Linked DNA regions of Homo sapiens: region 1 is linked to region 2. A link means that fine-mapping ties the variant in region 2 to the expression of a gene that starts in the linked region. Tissue or cell type: vagina. Region 2 holds a variant in brackets; the other region holds the start of a gene. All regions are shown on one strand. Distances are from middle to middle.

Evidence for each region. PIP is the estimated chance that this variant, and not a neighbour inherited with it, causes the effect.
Region 1: FRRS1L starts here. The variant in region 2 is fine-mapped to the expression of FRRS1L in vagina (GTEx, PIP 0.96).

Annotation. Positions count from the first base shown.
Region 1 is chr9:109,162,884-109,170,980 of GRCh38, reverse strand. It overlaps FRRS1L (ferric chelate reductase 1 like), which reads left to right and starts at 3,732. Exons shown (of 5, transcript NM_014334.4): 1 at 3,732-4,080. The coding sequence starts at 3,843.
Region 2 is chr9:108,216,017-108,224,124 of GRCh38, reverse strand. All of the region lies in intron 4 of LOC105376214 (a long non-coding RNA gene), which reads left to right. Among named protein-coding and RNA genes, the nearest start is that of ACTL7B, 640 kb to the left of the region's middle. The variant C/T (reference allele first, on the strand shown) is at 4,622.

The DNA.
Region 1 (8,097 bases), 950 kb before region 2:
TCGAGGTGGGCAGATCACCTGAGGTCAGGAGTTCGAGGCCAGCCTGACCAACATGGAGAAACCCCATCTCTACTATACAAAATTACCTGGGCATGGTGGTGCATGCCTGTAATCCCAGCTACTAGGGAGGCTGAGGCAGGAGAATCACTTGAACCCGGGAGGCAGAGGTTGCGGTGAGCCAAGATTACACCGTTGCACTCCAGCCTGGGCAACAAGAGTGAAACTCCGTCTTAGAAAATAATAATAATAATATTGTTATGAACATTTGTGTACAAGTTTTTGTGTGAACATCTGTTTTAAATTCTCTTGGAATTGCTGGGTCAAATGGAAACTCCATGTTTAACTTTCTAAGGAACTGCCACAATCACAGCTTTTATTTCTTACAAAATCCAAAGTGAAAAATTATATATACTAGACAGTCAGAAGCCTGGGCAAATCGGTTACTCATCAGATACCAAGATGCAGCAATGATTTTGGGAGTTTTTAATCGCAAAAAAGGTTGTGTCAGAGAAATTGCTTTGAGGTGGAGAGAAAATAAAGGTACTGTCTTTCTTTTTAAAATGAAAATGAATTTAAATCTGGTTCATCTCTAAGTTTTTGTTTGAGTGGCCAGCTCTTGTACAGCCAGTGGTCTCAGAATGTTCAGGCAAAGTTCCTCCCCAGAAAATTTGCACAGTAGAGGAAACTACAATATTTCTTAGCTGTTCTGTAGAGTCACATTGGTGGGGAACAGAGGGTCTCTGCAAACCTAGGATGTAACTAAGAGGGGAGCATGTGCTTAAGGTTGGAATAGGTCTGCCTCCACTCTTTCCAGGACTTAAATCGTGTCAGAAAACATGAAGAGAAAGAAAATCCCCAAAGGCAATTTGAGTGGATGGGAGAGAATCTCATGAAATGGAAGGAGCCGAATAGGTTGCTGGGCCCTGAAAAGGCATAAGGCTTGAGTGACCCATAAAAGCTATAGGTTTTCCCAAACACTGCATGTTCTCACTCATAAGTGGGAGTTGAACAGTGAGAACACATGGACACAGGGAGGGGAACATCACACACCGAGGCATGTTGTGGGGGGTGAGGCAAGGGGAGGGAGAGCATTAGGACAAATACCTAACGCATGCAGGCTTAAAACCTAGATGACGGGTTGATGGGTACAGCAAACCACCATGGCACATGTATACCTATGTAACAAACCTGTACATTTTGCACATGTATCCCAGAACTTAAAGTAAATTAAAAAAAAAGTTGAACATGGAAAAAATAATTCATAAAAAAAGCTATGGGTTTTCTCCCTAGAAAAACCCATACATCACAACATTATTCCAGCACTTTCATAAGGTCCTCATATCACCCCTGAAGCCTATCTGTGGCCCCCTGTGAGTCTACATGAGTAGAGAGAGAATTGAAATCCACAGTTTACCTGCAAACTTCATTTTAGGCTGTAGTTGTAAACCGTCCCCAAAATACCCAAATACCCCCATAAAAACAATATAGAAAGCCCACGTGGTGGTGGTTTTTTTTGTTTTGTTTTGTTTTTTTGTTTGTTTTTTGTTTGTTTTTTGAGATGGAGTCTTGCTCTGTCGCCCAGGCTAGAGTGCAGTGGCCTGATCTCGACTCACTGCAAGCTCCGCCTCCCAGGTTCACGCCATTCTCCTGCCTTAGCTTCCCGAGTAGCTGGGACTTCAGGCGCCCGACACCATGCCCGGCTAATTTTTTGTATTTTCAGTAGAGACGGGATTTCACCGTGTTGGCCAGGATGGTGTCGATCTTCTGACCTTGTGATCCGCCCGCCTCGGCCTCCCAAAGTGCTGGAGTTACAGGCGTGAGCCACCGTGCCCGGCTGCCCACGTGTTTTTATATCAGATTAATTTACTCGGAGAAGAATGGCCTGGTTTTCATTTGCCTTCTATTTGGGCACCGTTATTGTTAATTTCAGTAACCAAAATGAAGGGAATAAAAAGGAAAGTAAGAGGTAAAAGCTTGTATTCCCAAACCAGAGAATCTACACTGAAATCAAAAGTCTAATGCTTTATTTTTTTGGCTAAACTTTGGTCCATTCTAAGTTGACCATACCTTCCCTGGTGAACAGAAAGAGAAGAAAAGAAAATAAAGAAATTTTAATTTTTAAGAAAGGTTTAAGGTTTTTGTTTTTGTTTTTGTTTTTTTTTTTTTTTTTGAAGGACTACACTTTAACAGATTTTCAATCTGTTGGATCAGCTTTTTTAGAATGTTATGCATTGCCACGCTATGCTTTTTGGGAAGAAGTCTCTTGAGTTTTTAAAGTAATCATAGTTCATCTTACCTTTTTCAAATAATCTGATCTATTTTTTGTGACAACTGCTATGTTGGGGGACCTAGTGAAGCCCAAGGTTTTCATGAATTACACCTCAATTCAGCCATCAGGATTAATATGTTTAAATTCCAGTTGGACAGCCCACTGTTAGCTGATACCTAATAGAAAATACCTGACTTCTAAGTCCCCCATCATGTCTCCCCTGTTTCAACAGCACTACCCTTATCTCTCAGCCAATCAGGCCATAAAGGGTTAAGATCACTAGTTTCCTTTTGAATATTAACATTTCACAATATTGTGTACATGTGTGCATGCCACTTACAGCACTGAACCCTATTGATCCTTACCTCTATGATCTTCCCTAATCTTCATTGCATCATGTCAATGACTAATCATGAGAGATCAGGCAGTCTGACTTCTAGGTCTGCATTTGGGACCTCTATGCTTTTCTGCCTCCATAATTATTTTGTTTATGCAATAAAATAAAATAATAAAATAGGAAAAGCAGGTTAAAATGCTGGCTCTGCAACACCAGCCTGAAAGGAATTGCGTCCGCCTCTCTGATGGAAAACAGCTTAGCAATTCGAATATATCACCCCAACAACCATCATCAAAAGAGAACCCTGGGACCTGCCATAAAGCAAATGCTTGGTGTGAATCAATGGATGGCTGAGTAAATAGCCAAAAGTGAACTGCAAGCAGCAGGAATGGATTTGAGAAAAATCAACAATTCAGCATGGCCCTCAGATACGGTGTGGGCCTTCCAAGGCCTGCGCGTGCTTGCTGCAGGGAAAGAGAGTAAACCAGAAGCCTAGTTTTGAAGGGGAACAGGTTACCTACTGGCACCAGCCTCTGTTGATTACACACCGCAAGAGCCTGGAGAGGAAGCAGGTGAATCCAGTTTTCTCTGTCTCTAAACACCTCAGTTTACCTAGCTCTATTGTGGGGGTCTTGCAATTTCAAGTTCCTTCTGTGATGATCCAAGAAATAATAGGTCTAGCAAGTGCTTTATGTAAACCAAAAAGTGCCGGCACAAGGTTGAGGAGGCAGCACTGACCAGGTGTGTCCAGGGTAAACTCTCTAGAGGAGCGTTTCATAAATTGAACGTGCATTGGGATCTCCTGGGAATTTTGATGAAATGAACATCCCGCTTCATGGGTCTGGAGTGGGGCCTCAGCGATGCTAACAAGCTTCCAGGTGATGCTGATGCTGCCGGTCCGCGGACCACACTCCGGAGTAGCAAGGGGCCAGAAGGGCCAAATCTGCCTGCGTGGAGGGAAGTCGGGGAGATGGGGAGAATGGAAAGAAGGACGGTAGAAGGGAAGCTGCTAGGAAGGAGAGATCGGTGCGGGGAGGAGGGGGGTTCCAAGAAGAAGGGGGAGGCTGCGGTGCTGGAGCGAGGATGCGCAGACCGAGGCAGGGAGGCGGGGGTGCGGGAGGCTCCGCGGCTGCGCGGGCGCGTGCTGGTGGCCTCGGCGGAGGCTCAGTCCCGGCCCGCGCCCGCGGCGCCCCCGCTGCGGCCCGAGCGGCCTGGCTGCGGGATCTGTGCGCACGGATGGCGCGGCCGCCCCGGCAGCACCCGGGGGTCTGGGCGTCGCTGCTCCTGCTGCTACTGACGGGGCCCGCCGCCTGCGCAGCCAGCCCCGCGGACGACGGTGCGGGCCCGGGGGGCCGGGGACCCCGGGGACGCGCGCGGGGGGACACGGGCGCCGACGAGGCGGTGCCGCGCCACGACTCCTCCTACGGCACCTTCGCGGGGGAGTTCTACGACCTGCGCTACCTGTCGGAGGAGGGTGAGGCTGCGGGAGGGCGAGGGGTTGCGGGAGGGGAGACCGGGGGTGGGGGACCGAGGATCGGGGGAACGAGGAGAGGGGGCGAGGGAGGGGGAGGGGGTCGGAAAAGATGTCCGTGGAGGCAGCTCTTGCAGAGGCGAGGCCAGGATGGGGAGCGCAGTGCCCAGGCCTCCGCCGGCCTGGAGGAAAGGCCCAAAGAGCTGTCAATGCCTGCCGCCCGCTTTACAGATGGGGAGAGTGAGGCTGGGAGAGGGAGGGGTCATCCAAGTTCTGCAAGGCTGTGGATAGGGGTGGGTGCTGAGTCTAAGCTCCCCCAGTTCTTAGATCTGGCTTCCACCTTTGCCGCCTGGGGTTGGGTTATAGGGGAGGAGGCCGCCATCTGGCCAGGGCAGCTAGGGGGAAGCAGAAAAACCCCAACCTAAAGAGAGAGGTTGCCTTATTTCCTCCCTGTCTGTATTGACTTAAATTTGCAGTGACCAGCGCCCACCTCGTAGCATTCTGTTCCTGCTCACTGACCCGTCAGAGCTGGGTCACATCAGCCTCCCCACTCCCATCCCTCCTCTTTTATGACGCCACATATGTTATGGTCCCCTAGTGCGAGCCACCATTGTTGTGGCCTGCTGGGCCCGCAGACTGGGAGTTTGTCAGCCAAGGGCCTCCCTGTAGAGCTGCTTCAACGAGCACAAAAGCCAAGCGGATGGTGGTCAGAAGGAATGGAAACTGGCCTCTTTAAGCAACTTTGGGAAGTAGTGACTTTCCTTTTCTTCTGCTAAGAGGGATATCCAACCATCAAGCTGGGGTTTGAAGTGTTGAGTCCCAGGAGCTCATATCTGTTAGTGGATGTGTCTGTTGTTAGGATTAAGTTCAGCTGTATACAACAAGCAAACATTAATAGCTTCAACAAGATAGAAGTTTCTCTCTTACAGAAAGAAAACTAGAAATAGGTAATCCAGAACTGGTCTGGAGGCTCCTTGGTCACCAGTGTCTCTGGATCCTGCCCTTCTGTTTCTTCACAATTCTTAGCATGTAACTTCATGGTTCAAAATAACTGCTTGAGCTACAGCCATTATGTTCACATTCTAGACAGTGGGAAAAATGAAGCAGGAAGAAGGTCACTGACTACTTTATAAAGGGATTACTCGGAAGTTTCATATAACAATTTTTATACTTCTTTGGCCACAACTTAATCATATGGTTGCACATAGGTACAAAGGAGGATGTAAAATAGAGCCTATTAGCTGAGACATAATATGCCCAGTTCAAAAATCAGAATTATTGTATTAAAGAAGATGGAGAGAATGGATTTGGGGAAATGTATTAAGTAGAGGCTTAACTGCTGAATTAGAGATTTTAACATATAGTGGTTTAAATAAGCTAGTTTATTTTTCTCTCTGATAAGAGTCTGGTTGGTCTGGGGCTGGTGGGATGACTCTGTTCCGCAAGGTCATTCAGGGACCCGGGTTCTTTCCATCTTGTTGCTCTGCCATCCCCCTGAGGCTTTGTCCTCATCAGTACAGTAGAAGCCAGGTTGCATGTCCTTGTTCAAGATTGAGGGAAAGAAAAAGAGAAGTTCAGGGCAAGTAGTTACCTTTTAGGCTGGCTGCCCACATTACTGCTGTTCACATTCCTTTGGCAAAAACATAGTTACAATGACCTAGCTTCAAGGGAGACTAAGAAATGTAGTCTTCTAGCTGGAGAGCCATGTGGCGGAATCTGTCACTCTGGAAAAGAATAAATATTCCGAAGCCCGTCTGTTTCTGAAAGCATCTAATGTATCTTTACACTGTACACAGCCTAGTGCTGCCAGGTGACTTAAATGTGGTATGTGAGAACTTGTATTCTGATTGGGCTCATGCATCTAACAAATGAAGGATAAGCTCAGATTCTGTACGTCCTTTGAGTCTCTCTGCAGAGAGAATGATATGTTCATTGTATAGTCCAGAAAGTTTTATGAATGTGGACATCAGGTGGGCCACAGCCATCAAGGACAGCTTTTATAGAGTCAAGCCATGAAGTAGGAAAGACTTCAGTGACACAGAAGAGGGAAGGCATTTAGGTGAGGTGATCACATAGCAGGCAGCAGGGCTTTGTACCGATCCCTAGTGTGTCTGCTTCGCGCCCCCACCATTCTGCACATAAAACTGGTTTAACCCTCCTGAAGTCTGCCTCTAACCTGTTGGCATTGCACTCAAAAGTCTGTGATGGGGCCGGGCGTGGTGCTTCACGACTGTAATCCCAGCACTTTGGGAGGCTGAGGTGGGTGGATCAGGAGGTCAGGAGTTCGAGACTAGCCTGGCCAACATGGTGAAACCCCGTCTCTACTAAAAATACAAAATTAGCCGGGCGTGGTGGTGCACGCCTGTAATCCCAGCTACTCAGGAGGCTGAGGCAGGAGAATTGCTTGAACCCAGGAGGTGGGGAGGTTGCAGTGAGCTGAGATTGCATCATTGCACTCCATCCTGGACAACAGAGTGAGACTCGGTCTCAAAAAAAAAAAAAAAAAATCAACCTGCTCCCTGAATGAATATTCAACTGCTTTATCTGAAATGTCCTCCCTGGCTCAACTTCCTTTTACAACCATATCTCCCCTTCCCTCACCCTGAGCTTTTACTCTCCATTCTTCTCCTACCCTCTTCTCTCTGACAGTTTCATTTCCTCTTTGCATACAGATTCTACCACCATCCGGTGGGTGCTAGTTGAGATGTAAGTGGCGTGGGGCTATCAGAGGCAGTGCCTCTGCTAGATTACCCTGGGCCTAGGCTTCATCCCTGTGGGTCCTGAATAGAGACTTTCCCAAGACGCTTAGAAATAAACAGTGACATTGCCTTAAAAGCGGGGGCTGAGGAGGGGTTGCCAGAGAGAGGGAAGAAGAACCAGGAGAGAGGGGTGTCCCAGAAGGCAAAGGAAAAGAGCCTGTTTCCTACCAAGGTGTGGCCTGATAGCATGAAGGCTCAAAATTATCGATGGTTTCAGGAGATGAGAGGTTATGGGTGGAACTCTCCTAGGACAGATTCAGTGGAGAAGGAAGGAGGGAACCTGACTGACCTTGGAGGACGTGGCAAGTGAAGAAGTGCCGGTAATGCCTTTGACTTATTCTATCAATACACTTGAGGTTGTCCATTTCTAGTGACTAGGCTACTTGTTCCCTCTGTGCAGGGTACCCCCTTCTTATGTCTCAAATAGTCATGAAACTGAGTTCAAAAATCAGAAAAAAAGGAATTTGAATAGTGGAGGTGGGAATGGAAATCCACTGAAACTGAGAGAGAGCCTACTGACCATTACCTACCCTACCCAGAGACTATTTCCCCAGTATCCAGATTGCCCAAAACCCTCAAATCCAGAGGCAGGATGCTGGCTAATTTGCTGTCTCAAGAAAATGATCACCCCCTAACATGGTCATTTTTAAAAACTTAAGTTATGCTAGTGTTCAGAATTCTTTGAGGGTCCCACTGTCTAAGCCTATACTACTCATGCTTACAGTCTCAGCTCAAATGTCACCTCTTTCAGGAAGCCTTCCCTGATTTTCTCCTTCTCCCACAGAAGATATTCTTCCACAGCACACAGTCTGCCGTGACCCTCTTTGCTGTCTATGGTCAGGAGTTCAGATAGGATCTTAGTGCTTGAATCCTACCACTCATACTTCTTTCCCTTGAGGTTCTTAACCCAGAGTCTATATATTCAGAGCAATGATAGAATGTGAAACAGATTACCATTTGATTATGGGCAAATGCTCACTTCTGAGGGTTCTTTGGGGAAAAACAAACAAAACTGAGTTGGATGTTGGCTAAGGGTTAAGTCCCAAATGAAGCTTGCTTCTCCCTGCTGCTAAGATGGCCAGGTTTGGGAAGCAGACCCTCAGTCTTAATCCAGCCAGCTACATGGATGATGTTAACCGCCTGACCCTTGGAGCCATACCCTGCCTAAGAAGGAAAAGACAGAACATCATTTATGGTCACTTATCTTTAAGGCATAGTCATCTGACTACTCGTAAAATGTGGCTCAATCAAGGATTTTCTG
Region 2 (8,108 bases):
ATGAACACACGTAAGATGTAAGATGCCAAGTGATGTTGCCTCCAACCCAGGAGACAATGCAGTGATTGTAGGTAGCAGGGTGACATGGTCAGGCTTGCCTTTTAGGACTATCACTATGGCTGCCATGTGGCGAATGGGTTGGTGCAGGCAAGGCAAGAGGAAGGAAGATCTTTTAGGAACATTCTGCAATATGGCAGGTAAAAGATGTTGTGAGTGTGAAGCTGGGCAGTGACAGTAGACAGGGTGGGGATGGGTTTGACTCATGAAAATGCAGAAGGCAAGGTCGATATGACTTGCATTAGGGAGAAGGGAAGCATAAAAAGTTTCCCAAGTTTCTGGCTCATGTTCCCTGAGTGGATGATGGTGCCACTCTCGAGGAGATAGAATCAGATTTAGTGAAGACAAAGATAAGTGACAGTGGTTTAGTACATGATGGGACACAATGGGACAAGTGTCCATTGTGCCCTTGCACGTGAGGTGCTGGGGAGTTGAGCACATTGGGAAGGTGATTTGGAATTCGTAAGCATATATGAGTTTATTCAAGCCATCACTTCAGACAAGTGTGTAGCGAGAGAAGAATTGAGTTCTTAGACCCTTGGGTGCAACAGCATTTATAGGGTTGTCAGAACAGGTGAACTCACAGTAGAGACTTGAACTCTGAATAAAGCAGGGCGCCTAACAGCATGAGGTCCCCTTGGTAGCCTGCAGCTTCTCCTCCTTCTTTGAAATACAAATCAACTTCTTTTGGGGGATGAAGAACTAGAATTATTGTAAACCTATCAGTTTTCCAAGCGTCAATTTTTCCAATTGTTGGGACTTCTATTAGGTCTAACAATGGAGGACATAAAATATTTACTGAAAAGTTAAAACTGCTTTTGAGGGAGTGGAAATTTTCAGTATGTTTTTAGCAAAACCCACAAGATTGAAGTTCAGTTCAAATAACACAAACATTTTGCATGCAATAGCTGTTTATTTTATTTTTTATCAATTTGGCTCCATATTTCTATGGTAGTAACTTTCACAAAGTTCTGGCCCTTAATTGTGACAGTACATCCAATGTTAAATAGAAAATGGAGTAGAGAGACGTCCTAGTCTGTGTTGCTATGAAGGAGTATCTGAGGCTGGGTAATGTATAAATAAATGAGGTTTATTTGGCACATGGTTCTGTAGGATCTGCAAGAAGCATGGCCCCAACATCTGCTTCTGGTGAGGGCTTCAGGCTTCTTCCACTTATGGTGGAAGGGGAAGGGGAGCCAGCATGTGCACAGGTGGCATGGCAGGAGAGGAAGCAAGAGAGAGAGGAAGAGGTACCAAGAACTTTTCAACAATCAGTTCTTTCAGGAACTAAGAGTGAGAACTCACTCCAGTGAGAACAGCACCAAGCCATTCAAGAGGGACCAATCCCATGACCCAAACACCTTCAACCATATCCCACCTCCAACATTAGGGATCGAATTTCTACATGAGACACGGTGGGGCCAAACCAAATCCAAACCATGCAGGGGAAAAGGAGATTTCTATTTCTTTCTCCATTAACCACTCAAATGTTTGGTTTATGCAATGCTGCCTTCTAGCTAGACTTCATTTGCCGTTAGCAAATTTAACAAAGGCTGAATACATAACCTGCTATCTCCCTGGAGCTATGCTAGGCGCTGTGATGGGCAGTGTTTCCTTTAAGATTCACAAATGGGCCAGAGAGAGATTAGAATGCTTTTGTCTATTTGATAAAGAAATTGAAGTTGTAGGAGATGAAGTGATTTGTTCAGGTTTACTCAGCGAGTTAGAGGAAGGCAAGGATTAGAACACGTGTGCACACACATACACATACATTTTAGATTCTAAGTCTTGTGAGCTTTTTTTCTTTTAATACAACTGCTCTGTTTCCATTTCTAAAATATGGTTCACATCTTGCTGGGTTTTTAAAAACTGAGTAAGTCTTTTCTCTGTTTGTAACTCCTTAGCACCCCAATTCCATTAAACAAATGCACAAAAAAGAGAAATCAGTGAAACGATGACCTTCATAAAATAATCATTCCTAAATCATCTGTGCAAATTGTTCTCGTCTACACAATTATGCCTTATGAGAGACCATTTTGATTACCAGTCAAAGGGAAATAAATGAGTGGTATGTAAAATTTAGTATCCATGATTTTTCTCATCAGTGTCCTTTAAATACATCCACATTATATCTGAGGTTTAAAAACAAGGCAAATGGGCACAGCATGCTTCGGTAGGACTGTCCTTTGTGGCTGTAGAAATGAGCCTTAGCTAACTTAGGCCTGAGTGGTTCCAGTACCTAAGTAGATCCCTATACTTAACTCAGCAAAGCATACATAGTTGTTATTCAATTGTTATTTACTTTTTTGGTCTCCTTTTATTTCATTTCCTAGGAAACTGAGTGGACGTTGAATCTGTGAATGGGAAGGGAATTCTTGTATTTTCTAACCAGATTTGCCAGGACCTAAGAGCAGATAATGGGGCGGGGGAAGAAAGGAAAATTGCCCCCCATGTATCCAATACGCCAATAAATTCTATACACCAAAACTTTGAATGAACAAAGTAATTTTTAGAAAATCAAATAGGGATTGTCTAGGGAGAATAAAAAGACATAGTGTTAGTCCAGTGTATTTATTGGCATGGCACATGTTGATTGATTACCTACTGTAAGCTAGGCCCTCTGCCAGACCTTGGAGGCATGAAAATAAACAAGACAGATGTGATTACTCTTGCTAGTTGAGAAGATCACCATGAGTGCCTACTAAGTGCCACATGTTTTCTATCAAGTTTTCTATTCATAGTAGTCATAGCTATTAGCAGTGGCTCAGATGTTTGATGCTTGATCCCTCAGAAGCATCTCTGAGTAGGCAATCAAGCACTTAATTTAAATGGAGGCTTTCTCTTTTTAATTTTTTTTTGTAGAGCATAGCTACTGATAGAGAAACTATGCGATAAGATCTGATACATAGCCAGACGCCATGGCTCACGCCTGTAATCCCAGCACTTTGAGAGGCCGAGGTGGGAGGATTACTTGAGGTTAGGAGTTTGAGACCAACTGTCCTACTAAAAATACAAAAAAAAAAAAAATTACCTGGGCATGGTGGTGCATGCCTGTAGTCCCAGCTACTCATGAGGCTGAGGCAGGAAAATCACTTGAACTTGGGAGGTGGAGATTGCAGTGAGCCGAGATTGAGCCACTGCACTCCAGCATGGGTGACAGAACAAGACTCTGTCTCAAAAGAAAAAGAAGAAAAAAGATCTGATATATAGGTAAGGGAAAAGAGATTGAGATGGGGAACCAAAGTATAAATACTTGGACTTAGCTGATGCATTTAAGAAGTAAAGAGGAGCTGCAAAATATGATGAGGGTTACAGGCCTCAATCCAGAAATGCTTCTTGACTCACCTGCAGCAGGTCCCTGAAATGCCATCCTTATTAGTAAAACTAATACTGTCTAGAAAATTATTGCAATAATGGCTAGAATCTATTGAGTATCTTTTATATGTAGGTCCTGTCCGAAGTGTTGTACAAACATGATGTCATATTATTAACCTTCAGAGCATCCCAGTGAGGTGGGCATGTTTATCGCTCTACCAGTGAGAATAAAATCAGTGATGTCGAATGCCTGGACCATGGTCATGTAGCTACTGTGCCTTCCAAATTTTTGCTTCCCAGGACACCGTCTTTCAAAACTCACCATTGTATATAGCCGACATTATTAAGACATTCTCCTGTGGCAACCTTTTCCTGTTTTCTCATCTTTCCTGTTTCAACCAGCAGGCCAGCCAAAGGCATTATCTCTTCTTATGAAATGAGATATATCGCCTCATTTAAGCTGGTCTGTATCAGTGTGCTGTGGGCATCATTCCTATTTTATTAATGTAGGTAAGAGGTTTCAGAGTTCTAGTAATTCGCCCAAGGTCATATGGCTTGTAAAGAATTAATTTAGGGCAAGAAAATGAGATTGTGCTTTGAAGATGGAAAGTTGGCTAGAAACCTCATCTCTGTGTCTTACCACCTGTATTAGTTATCTATTGCTGTGTAACAAATTAGTCAATAACTTAGCAGCTTAAAAGAACACACATGTATTATCTCACACTTTCTGTGGGTCAGAAATATGGGAAGAGTTTAGCTGGGTCCCCTGGCCTCTCACAACGCTGGAACCCAGGTATCATGGCCATCTCAAGGCTCAATGGAGGTGAGATCTGCTTCCAAGAGCACTCAGTAGTTGTTGGCAGGATTTAGTTCCTTACGGGCTGTTGGCCAGAGGCCACCCTCGGTTCCTTGCCACATGGGTCTCTTGATAAGACAGCTCATAACCTGGCAGCTGGCTCCAACAGAGTGAGCAAGCAAGTGAGAGAGGAAGAGAGAGAACAAGCGAGATGGAAGTCATAGTCTTTTATAACCTAATCTTGGAAATTACATCCCATCACTTTTGCTGTATTCTATTTACTAGCTAAAAGTCACTAGGACCAGTCCACAAAAAAGGGCAGCAAATTACATAAAGGTATGAATACCAAGAAGCAGAAGTCATTGAGGGTCATTTCAGAAGCTGCCTACCATCCTGTCTGAGCTGGTTGAATTTACTTAGCCTCATTTTTAAATTTAAATTTAAACTTTTTAA[C/T]TTAACTGTTAAGTTTAGGGGTACATGTGCAGGTTTGTAATATAGGTAAACTTGTGTCATAGGTGTTTCTTGTACAGATTATTTCATCACCCAGATACTAAGCCTAGTACCCAACAGTTATTTTTTCTGATCCTCTCCTTCCTCCCACCAATAGGCCTCAGTGTCTGTTTTTCCCCTCTATGTGTCCATGTGTTCTCACCATTTAGCTCCCACTTATAAATAAGAATATACCGTATTTGGTTTTCTGTTCCTGCATTAGTTTGCTAAGGATAATGGCCTCCAGCTCCACCCATGTTCCTGCAAAGGACATGATCTCATTCTTTTTTTACGACTGCATAGTATTCTGTCGTATGTAGGCACCATATTTTCTTTATCCAGTTTATTATTTATGGGCATTTAGGCTGATTCCATGTCTTTGCTATGTAGTAGTACTGCAGTGAACATACACGTGTATGTGTCTTTATAACAGAATGATTTATATTCCTTTGAGTACATACCTAGTAATGAGATTGCTGGGTCAAATGGTATTTTTGTTTTTAGGTCTTTGAAGAATCCTCACACTGATTGAACACATAGTTCCACAATGACTGAACTAATTTACACTCCCACCAACAGGGTAAAAGCATCCCTTTTACTCCACAACCTCGCCAGCATCTGTTATTTTTTTGACTTTTTAATAATAGTCATTCTGACTGGTGTGAGATAGTACCTTGTTGTGGTTTTGATTCGCATTTCTCTAATGATCAGTGATGTTGAACTCTTTTTCATATGATTGTAGGCCACATGTATGTTTTCTTTTGAAAGTGTCTGTTCATGTCCTTTGCCCACTTTTTAATAGAATTGTTTGTTTTTTTTTCCTTGTACATTTGTTTAAGTTCCTTATAGATGCTGGATATTAGACCTTTGTCAGATGCCTACTTTGCAAAAATTTTCTCCCATTCTGTAGGTTGTCTGTCCACTCTCTTGATAGTTTCCTTTTGCTGTGTAGAAGCTCTTTACTCTAATTAGATCCCATTTGTCAGTTTTTGCTTTTGTTGCAATTGTACTTAACCTCTTTTAACCTTGGTTTCCCCATACTTAAAGTCAGAATAATATACCCATTGCACTATTATTGTGGAAATTAAACAACTTGGACTATAGAAAGCCCCTGGTCCCTAATTTTTGCTTGTTAAATTATTACTACAATTGCTATCATTTTATTGATATCCTAAGTAGGAGAGCCAGAATCGGAACCCAGATAATGTGTGTGATTTTAATCCGTGCTGTCTCCTCCTACACGGTGTTGCCTTTGGCCTGAAATAATATATTCTGAGATGGGCTCTCATTTTCTAAGATAATTTGCTTAAAATAGTCTAAGAAGAGTCATCTATCCTTGTGTCATGTGCAAAGGGAGAGGCAAGGCGATTTTTTTTGCTTTAACAACTATAAATTTGAAGAAGCCCTCATATGAAAGGTTTTCTTTGTGCAAGTGTTTAGCTCATCTTATAAGACATTTTAATGTTAATAGGGCTCCCACAGGGACAATATAATTGATACAATACTCTTCCAAAGCTGTTCTAAACGTTGCAGTCACCGGAGTACGGTAATATATCTTCCCAATGTCAGAAAGCGCAGAGTGGTTACTGAACTCCAACTTGGTTGACTCTCAGATGGCTTCTTTGAAGATGAATCTTAATGGGGAGGCTGACGTTGGAGCCATGGGAGCAAATCTGATGAATGTGCTGGAAGTGCCGCAGTGGCCTTTAAAATGCCTGAATGTCACTGGGGGAAATAAAAATGCTAAGGAGAATTAATGTGATAAGCAAGTGCTGTCGGTGAGCCATCTCAGAATCATGGGCTTGGGGTTTTAGCAAAACCACATAGTGTGGTGAAAAGACCATGGGCTTCAGAGTCAGCCAGAAAAAGCTGAATTTGAGTCCAAGTTCTGCCTCTTTCTAACTGGGTGGGACCTTGAGATAATAATTTAACTTCTCTAAAACTTTCAGCTACTTGCTCTATAATGCCAGGTAATAATAGCTGTATCACAAGGTTTCATGAGTGTCAGGGATCACACCAAAGGCGCTTTATACATTTTAGTTCTCATCTTCCTCTTAGAGCCTGCTTTTTAATTCAGTAGTGGCAAATATTTAACAACTGCCTCTCCAAAGGGTAACAACCCCCTCCTCCAAAGGGGACCCCTGATCTATAGCCTTTGCCTATTTCCGTGGTGTAAAAATTTCACCATGCTGATTTTGAGCTACCAACTGGAAGCCAGGGAATACTGTTAAAGTCTCTGTTCAACTTTCTCTCTCCCTTTCCCGCAGATTTATGTCTTTTTATTTATTTATATATTTATTTAGAGATGGGATCTTGCTATGTTGTCCAGGCTGGTCTCAAACTCCTGGCCTCAAGCAATCCTCTTGCTTCAGCTTGCTAAAGTGTTGGGATTACAGGCATGAGCCACCATGCCCAGCCCTGATTTATGGCTTTCGTCGGAGCCATTACCCATTTTTGTAAAATAAAATAATGTGTGTTCCCTGCCTCCCGCCCTCCAGCCACTGAGTGGGCCACACCACCTTAAGGATAAGTCTTGGTAGCAGGTGGCACCTTTGTCCAGAGAAAAAGGCAACTCTTTTTCCCTTCCTCTGAAAGCATGTGGCCCTAAGTTAGAGCATATGGCTTGGCAAGAGGAACACGGGCTGGTTTTCAGTGCCCTCTCACTGTCTTGGCTGAGTACCCTTGTGGAGGACACAACCTTTCAACTCTATCTGGTGGCCTTGCCTTTTGTGGTTAACCTTTCCAATGTACAATGCCCTCTCTGCCTTTGACAAAGTAACTGCTCATTAACAGGCTACACCTCCCAAGATAAGCAAATAAGCTCTCTTTCCCCATTTTCATTGCTTCCCTGAACAAGGAAGAAGGTAAATCTGTCATCTCTCAGTATTTGGTTTAAGGCAGAAATATGTATTCAGACGTGGAAGTGTTGTAGGAGTTGTAAGGTTGGAGGGAAGAAATCAGAAGGTGTGTGAAATTTTCCTGATTAAAAGAGTTATTTGGGAGTTGGCTGTTGGCCTAATCATTGAGATTCCTTCTAGTTCATGGACAATGCTTATATCTGAACCATATGGGACAGATTACAAACCACTTTCAGAAATGTTATCTCATTTGGAACACACCTTGTGAGGTCAGTAGTGGTAATTATCAGATTTAATAGATGAGGAAATTGAGGCTCAGATAAGTTAATGTCATAGAATATTAAAACTGGGCCTCAAACCAGGGTGTCCTAGATATAGGTTCCTGGCTTTTTTGATGCATTATTTTTGTTCTGTTATTAACTCATCCCCCTAGGCTCTTTCTCCTGACTGGGCTTTCTCATTAGAACCACAAAATAAAGAAAATAATTTGAGGCCAGGCACGGTGGCTTGTAATCTGAGCACATTGGGAGGTCGAGGCGGCCTGAATACTTGAGGCCAGGAGTTCGAGACCAGCCTGGGCAACGTGGCAAAAA